Linked DNA regions of Homo sapiens: region 2 is reported to be linked to region 1. Evidence: microRNA targets listed by miRTarBase, many of them from high-throughput screens and not tested one by one. Region 1 holds a microRNA gene; the other region holds the end of a gene's coding sequence.
What was found. The annotated mature microRNA hsa-miR-145-5p reads GUCCAGUUUUCCCAGGAAUCCCU and lies in region 1 at 2,893-2,915, shown strand. An mRNA with a match to its seed (bases 2 to 7 or 8) in the 3' UTR can be bound and repressed. Matches are read on the target gene's strand: a 7mer-m8 pairs with bases 2 to 8, a 7mer-A1 pairs with bases 2 to 7 and ends in A, and an 8mer does both.

Region 1 (4,320 bases):
ATCACCTGAGGTCAGGAGTTCTAGACCAGCCTGGGCAACGTGGTGAAACCCTGTCTCTACTAAAAATACAAAAATTAGCCAGGCATGGTGGTGCACGCCTGTAGTCCCAGCTACTTGGGAGGCTGGGGCATGAGAATTGCTTTAACCCGGAAGGTGGAGTTTGCAGTGAGCCGAGATCGTGTCACTGCACTCCAGCCTGGGCGACAGAGGGAGACTCTGTCTCAAAAAAAAAAAAAAGTCAAGGAGGGTTTCCCAGAGTGGCCACTTGATTAGAGACCTAGCACAGGAGGAAGAGATGGGCAGGGAGAGTGACGGGGAGCAGCACAGTCCCTGGGAGCCCGAAGTGGGTGGGCACAGGGCTCCCTAGGAGAATGGAAGGACATCTATGAGCTGTAGCCCAAGAGGAAGAGGTCACTGGGGCTAGATGCGGCAGACCCTCGCAGGCTTTGGGAAGGGCTTCAGAATTCAGCCTGAGGGCAATGGGGAGCCCTTTTGGGATATTAAACTTGAGTAAGATATGAGCATATTTGCATCTTGAAAAATCATTATGGGAAGATGGCTGGGAAGAGAGGAGGAGTGGCAGAAGAAAGATAGGTTGGAGACAATTGATTGCTCGATGATATAAAATGTTAAGTACCATGAATGATGCTGTTAGGCTGGAATGCGCCAAGCATAAAGGTGGGGCATGGCATCAAAAGGTAGGTCAACATATTAAATAATTCCATGTATTGAAATATCCAGAAAATATATAGACAGATCTATAGAGATAGAAACTGGTCTGCCCAGGACTAGGGGTTGTCTAAGGATAAGGAGCTTCTTTTTTGGATGGTGAAATAACCTAAAATATATTGTGCCATTGTTTGCACAACTTTGTGAATATATTAAAAACCTGTTAATTGTACTCACTAAATGTCCTCCTTCTAAATTAAGCTGTTCTTGACAAGAAAAGGAAAGAAACAAAGAAAAGAAGAGAAAAAAGGTCAAGGTTTGGTCCTGGGTGCTCAAATGGCAGGCCACAGACAGGAAACACAGTTGTGAGGAATTACAACAGCCTCCCGGCCAGAGCTGGAGAGGTGGAGCCCAGGTCCCCTCTAACACCCCTTCTCCTGGCCAGGTTGGAGTCCCGCCACAGGCCACCAGAGCGGAGCAGCGCAGCGCCCTGTCTCCCAGCCTGAGGTGCAGTGCTGCATCTCTGGTCAGTTGGGAGTCTGAGATGAAGCACTGTAGCTCAGGAAGAGAGAAGTTGTTCTGCAGCCATCAGCCTGGAAGTGGTAAGTGCTGGGGGGTTGTGGGGGGCCATAACAGGAAGGACAGAGTGTTTCCAGACTCCATACTATCAGCCACTTGTGATGCTGGGGAAGTTCCTCTACACAAGTTCCCCTGGTGCCACGATCTGCTTCACGAGTCTGGGCATGTCCTGACTCCTCTGTGTACCCCAGTGTGTCCATCTTAGCATGAGGCGTTAGCATTTCCCCAGCACCCTGCCTCTGCTTTCTCTTTCTGAGCCCATGGCAGACACAGCTAATCAGTAAAGGCATATATTCTTTTTTTTTTGAGACACAGTCTCACTCCATCACCCAGGCTGGAGTGCAGTGGCATAATCTCAGCTCACTGCAACCTCCTCCTCCCAGGGTCAAGCAATTCTCGTGCCTCAGCCTCCCAAGTAGCTGAGATTACAGGTGTGCGCCACCACACCTGGCTAATTTTTGTATTTTTAGTAGAGATGGGGTTTCACTATGTTGGCCAGGCTGGTCTCAAACTCCTGACTTCAGGTGATCTGCCCGCCTCGGCCTCCCAAAGTGCTGGGATTACAGGCATGAGCCTCCACGCCCCGCCAGGCATCCATTCTTGAAGTGCTCAGATGCAGCTTCAGAATCCTCAACAATGAGCCCTGGAAAGCCACTAGTACTGATTCACAGCTGAAACTCATTCATCATTTGTGGATCAAACAATTCCTAAAAACCCTTTCAGCCCTGAAGATAAAAATTCTGGCCTTTGAGTCAGGGTCTTCACTCTGTACTTCTAACCTTGGCTCCGGGGTATTGCCGAAACCAGTCCAGGCACGTCACAAATGTCTGACTTCTCCCAGAGGCTTCAGAAGCACAATGAGCAGCAGAGGAGAGCCATGGAGCCAAGCACAGTCTCATTTAACCTCCCCAAAAGCTTGGGAAGTGGGTGGTGTTATAGCCCCATTTTACAGATGAGAAAAACTGAGGCTTATTTAAGCAGCTCACCTAAAGTCACATATTGATTGTGCTGAGCTGAGATTGTACCCTAATCTGCCTTCAAATCCATGTTTTTACCCATTGCATGTGATTATGGAACCTGGGACCGAGGAGCAGGAGGAGAACATTCTAAATTCTGCTCCCATCTTGTCTTTACATCTCAGGTCACTTTTAGCAAAGACAGACCCGGACACTTGCCATTAATACTACAGGCTTCCTTCCTCCTACCCCCTTCCCCCAATCTTATTCATCTCACCTCTCCAGTAGGTCGTGGACTCATGCATTTTATAATTAAAGAAGGCCAAGGCTCAGGGGTTAAGTGACTTACTGGAGGTTATCAGAGAGGAAGTTGCCAAACCCAGGCTAGGAACTGAATGGTTGGTTTAAATCCACCCCTCTGGCAGGAGACTGGGGAATACACATGAGCCGTGCAGACAGCAGAGGGCAGTCCTGGGGGTGGGGGCGCCAGAGGGTTTCCGGTACTTTTCAGGGCAATTGAAGTTCCGGTCACTACTCCCCCCCAGAGCAATAAGCCACATCCGGCGACGTGTGGCACCCCACCCTGGCTGCTACAGATGGGGCTGGATGCAGAAGAGAACTCCAGCTGGTCCTTAGGGACACGGCGGCCTTGGCGCTGAAGGCCACTCGCTCCCACCTTGTCCTCACGGTCCAGTTTTCCCAGGAATCCCTTAGATGCTAAGATGGGGATTCCTGGAAATACTGTTCTTGAGGTCATGGTTTCACAGCTGGATTTGCCTCCTTCCCACCCCACAGTTGCCCCCCAATGGGGCCTCGGCTGGCTCACAGGATGAGGGTTCAAGAAGAAGGCTGTCCCTGGAGGTAAGAGGGCTTATGAACCATGTTCCAAACCTTTGCGTTGCTTTTCTTTCCATCGTGTCTATTTCATAACATCCCTGTGAGGCTGGATGTGGGAACTTCAGCACTGCCGTACTCTTGGGAAATTTGTCCAAGGCCACCCGGCTGAGCAGCGGTTGAACCAGGACACCATCAGGCATGCGTTTCTTGTCTCCACCACACCCTCAACCCACTTCCCAACGCGCCTTGCGACAGGGGCTGCGGTATTGCATCCACATGACTGATAAACTAGTAAACACACATGAATTCATTTTAAAAGTGTATTCAATCAGTTAGGTAAACTAAAAACCTTAAGTCTTCGTTCGATTTGGAATGCAGCCAGAGAACAAATGGAAAATTTTTCAAGGTAGAGAAGATGAAAACTCAGAACGCCCTCTTGTGGCATCTCTACCCACCCTAGGAACACTATGGCTCTTCCCCTACACATGGTGATTGCTAACCTTGCTACAAGACGTTGGACACACACACACACACACACACACACACACACACACTGAGGTTCCTTTTGCCCCCTCACTTTTGAGCCAGTGACTACTGAAACCCTCTCCATTGTTGCACCACCAGCAATGCCCCCATCACTTCCTCTCATTTACTTCCACAGGCTGGTTCATCCTCAAAGCCCTCCTTACGTAGATCTGTGGGATCAGTGAGGCTCAGAGAGGTAAAGTGGCCAGCCCAAGGTCGCCCAGACAGCAAAAGGCAGGGCCAGCGCTGATTTCAAGTCCAATGGCCTATGGCAATTTCTTAGCCAAAAGCAAAATCTACAAAAATAAAAAGTCAGGCACAGTGGTGAGTGCCTACAGTCCCAGCTACTGAGGAGGCCGACGGGGGAGGACCACTTGAGCTTGGGAGTTCCTGGCTGCAGAGAGCTATGATTGTGCCTGTGAATAGCCAATGCACTCCAGCCTGAGCAAGATAGGGAGACCCTGTCTCTAAAAAATACCTAAATAATTTTAAAAGTCAGCCTCTCTGACTGCCTATAGAGAATGCTAACTAACTGAATGACAGAAGACCTAATGTAATCCAGGTGCAAAATCAGAACTTTCCGGCCGGGCGCGGTGGCTCACACCTGTAATCCCAACACTTTGGGAGGCCCAGGCGGGTGGATCACGAGGTCAGGAGTTCAAGACCGGCCTGCCCAACATGGCAAAACCCCGTCTCTACTAAAAATACAAAAAATTAGCTGGGCATGGTGGTGGCCACCTATAATCTCAGCTAC
Region 2 (4,000 bases), not on the chromosome of region 1:
ATTACTTTATCATTAGTCCTGACTAACAAGACCACTGCAATATAGGAGGCACTGTATGGTGGTAGACTAATGGGTGGGCTGAGTTTGAGTCCTGGCCATGCCATTTATAAGCTGTATAATTGTGAGACACTACTTAGATTCAGTTTCTTGATCTTTAAAGTAGGAAGATTAGTCCCTGTCTTACATGGTAGGTGTGAGGATAAAATAGATAATGTCTGTAACACATTTAGCAGTTAGGGCCTCTTAGAGTTTGAGAGAGCTGCAGGCTACTTCTTAGAGGATCCCACAATTTAAAATGTGACAACAGGATTTACATATTTATAGATTTTTACAGTTGTTCACTGGGGAAACAACATGAGACAATATAAAAGCAATAATAAAATAATTACCAGATTTTTTCGTAAGTGCGATTCTTAGTGGACCATAATTTAAAGTGTTATATGTCTTTCAGTTTTGTGGATGTATTTGCAGTATCTCATTTGGCCATGTCACAAGTTTAAATGTAAGTCACAAGTTTAAATGTAAAGCTCTGTGATTGTGAGACCTCCTGAGCACCTCCAGGATGGGCCCTGAGCACAGTGTTAATAGCTAATGTTTATCAGCTCATTTTTGGTTTCAAACAGTTTTCAAAGAATCGATAAGTACACTTTGCTGCTAAGGCCTCAACTATGTTCTCTTGGCTGCTTTTTGCTGGGGGAATGGCAGGGACAAGGTCTCACTCTGTCACTCAGGCTGAGTGCAGTGGCACGCTCATAGGTCACTGCAGCCTTGAACTCCTGAACTCAAGCAGTCCTCCCACATCAGCCTCACGATTAGCTGGGACCACAGGCACATGCCACCATGCCTGACTTTTTTTTTTTTTTTTTTTTTTTGAGACAGAGTCTCACTGTCACCCAGGCTGGAGTGCAGTGGCCCAGTCTCGGCTCAGTGCAACCTCCGCCTCCCGAGTTCAAGCAATTCTCCTGCCTCAGTCTCCTGAGTAGCTGGGACTACAGACACCTGCCACCATGCCCAGCTAATTTTTGTATTTTTAGTAGAGAGAGGGTTTCACCATGTTGGCCAGGCTGGTCTTGAACTCCTGACCTCAAGTGATCTGCCTGCCTTAGCCTCCCAAAGTCCTGGGATTACAGCGTGAGCCACCGTGCCTGGCTTTTTTTTTTTTTTTTTTCAAGAGACAGGGTCTTGCTATGTTGTCCAGACTGGTCTCAAACTCCTGGGGTCAGGCAAACCTCCCACTTCAGCCTCCCAAACTGCTGGAATTACAGGCATGAGCTACTGTGCCCAACCTCCTGGTTGGTTGCTTGCTTGCTTGCTTTTTTCCTCAACTCCTAAGTGCTTGGAAACTCTTGGTTGGTTTTTGTTGTTTTTGTTTTTTGAGATGGATTCTTGCTCTGTTGCCCAGGCTGGAGTGCAGTGGCACGATCTTGGCTCACTGCAACCTCCACCTCCCAGGTTCAAGCAGTTCTCCTGCCTCTGCCTCCTGAGTAGCTGGGATTACAGGCATGTGCCACCATGCCCAGCTAATTTTTGTATGTTGTGGTGTTTTTTGACACAGTCTTGCTCTGTTGCCCAGCTCTTGGTTGCTTTAAAAAATACAAAATTAGCTGGGCGTGGTGACGGGCGCCTGTAATCCCAGCTACTCGGGAGGCTGAGGCAGGAGAATCGCTTGAACCCGGGAGGCAGAGGTTGCAGTGAGCCAAGATCATGCCACTACACTCCAGCCTGGGTGACAGAGCAAAACTCCATCTCAAAAAAAGAAAAGTACAAACCACTTGAATAACATCTCTGAAAATTAGGGCATCTGGCATGTATAATCTCATGCTCTTCTAGTAACCATCAAGACATGATGTCCTGGCCCTAGCTAGCTATGGCATCCCATGAGCCTACTTTAAAGCACAGTTTACAAAGAAACTTCACCTGTGGTTGCCTCATACACAGACCATTTCCTTTGACTCTAAAGGAGTTTGAAAACTCTCAAAATATCAAAATATTTTAATTGATCTTAGACTGACTTAGAAACGGTTATTTACATACATTTAGAATTATAAATTGCAAAGAGAAATTTCCCAAAACCAAAATACTCACAAAATATTATTAAACATTCAAGCAAAAATGTTTTTAACCCAATTAAATTTCTCAGCTCAGTGGCCTGCTGATATAATATTGATTACTGGCTAAAAACTACATTTGCAGAAACTTTTAGAAATGTCTTTCATGGCCACATAGTATGTACTGAGCAATTGTGGAGTGAAGCACTGTACTAGGAGTTATCTAGAAGAATTCATTTAAATAGAAATTACATTGGAACATTTGTGAAAGACATTTAATAATCCACAAAACTTGCACAGGAAGTACAATAACAAGTGCTAAGGGTAATGGAGTGATCGAAGTAACAGGTGCAAAATCAGGATTACTTAGAGAAAATTTCAGACTTCAGAAGGCAGGTGGGGAGTCCTCGAGTGTTTTGAAAGCAAAAGGTATGAATTTGGTTCAAAACTGAAAGGAGTGACTTTAAGACCAAAGCATATATTGTGGATAGTTGACCTTCAGATTTGCATAGCTGTCCTGCAGGCTAAGGATGATATCAGTTATCTGGGAGGGTAACTGAAAGCTTTTTATAATTTGGTAGCAACTGGAGGCTACCACAGAACCATAGAGTAATTTTTTTTTTTTTTTTTTTTTTTTTTGAGAGCCTCCCTCTGTCTCCCAGGCTGAAGTGCAGTGGCACGATCTTAGATCACTGCAACCTCCACCTCCCAGGCTCAAGTGATTCTCCTGCCTCAGCCTCCTGAGTAGCTGGGACTACAGGCTCCCGTCACCGTGCCCAGCTAAGTTTTATATTTTTAGCAGAGATGGGGTTTCGCCATATTGGCCAGGCTGGTCTTGAACTCCTGACTTCAGGTGATCCACCCACTCGGCCTCCCAAAGTGCTGAGATTGCAGGAGTGAGCCACTGCACCTGGCCCACAGAGGGTAATTTTTTTTAAGTAGTTGAGAAGCTAGAGGCAAGGGGGCTGTCGAAATAATCTGCATGCAGAGTCATTGGAGCTATGATTGAACGTGAAGATGACAGGCCCAATTTTAAAAAGTAATAAACCTAGGATGAGGGTTGAAGAGACGGGGTAGAGTGACTTTAAGATTATAAGCCTTGGAGGGACCAGGAGAAAATGGCAGCTGTCAAACACAAGGGGAAACTGAGTCAAGCTGAGGCATTCTTGTGAAGAAAATAATGAGTTCTGAACAACCAGTCCAAAAACTAAAAACAGGCCTGGCAAGAAGGCATAGGGATGCAGACCAATGGAATGTGCAGGCTTGGAGAGAACACAGGTAAAAACGAATGCGGGAACTCTGGGGTGGGAGTGTGGGCTTAAAACGTCATTGACAAAGTGGCGGGGTACCTTCAAATGTGAGAGGTGCTGTCAAAACCATCATCAAGGTTAACAAGGACATGTCCTTAGCATGGAAGTCAGAAAGGACAGTATGCTGATGTGTCTCTCCCAGGCTGTCAGTCATGGCTCCTCAGAGCTTATCCCGAATTCTCCCAGAATCCTCAAAAGTTACCAAAGGCAGAAAAGATGTGTTCCTCCCATGAGTCCAGCTTTGAACCAATGTCTTCAGAGAGAGGGGAACAGGTTTCAAAATTCTGACCTTGGGAGCTAGAGTCAGAGATGCCCCCTCCAACCCCGTTTGGTTCGGGCAGGCAGTTCACATCTACCTCAAGAGGCAGCTGGGGCTTCAGACATTTCGTTTCAGTTCCAGGAGCACAGTGGTTGAGGATAATCTCCGGCCTAGCCAAAGGTTGGAAGGATTTCCCACTCTGACGCCGAGACTTGGCACGCCTGTTCTGGAACCATACCTGGAAGAGGGGAGAAAATAAAAGCTGCTTTTGGTTGGAGTTTTTTATGCTAACATTATGTTCACAGTTCATACTGGTAAGTTCCAGTTTAACATCCCCTGGCTTCCTCTCCAGAGCCTTGTCTTCAGAAAGCACTTGGGTTGAC

Region 2: the mRNA of MIXL1 is a reported target of hsa-miR-145-5p. The part of its 3' UTR that is shown has no 7-base or 8-base seed match.

The regions. Positions count from the first base shown.
Region 1 is chr5:149,427,769-149,432,088 of GRCh38, forward strand. MIR145 (microRNA 145) reads left to right here and starts at 2,878; the gene lies at 2,878-2,965. It overlaps CARMN (cardiac mesoderm enhancer-associated non-coding RNA), which reads left to right. Exons shown (of 5, transcript NR_105060.1): 4 at 1,115-1,271. MIR143 (microRNA 143) reads left to right here and starts at 1,150; the gene lies at 1,150-1,255. RefSeq lists an enhancer at 3,218-3,512.
Region 2 is chr1:226,225,362-226,229,361 of GRCh38, reverse strand. MIXL1 (Mix paired-like homeobox) reads right to left here. Exons shown (of 2, transcript NM_031944.3): 2 at 2,302-3,855. The coding sequence ends at 3,550. Among named protein-coding and RNA genes, the nearest start is that of MIXL1, 3.7 kb to the right of the region's middle.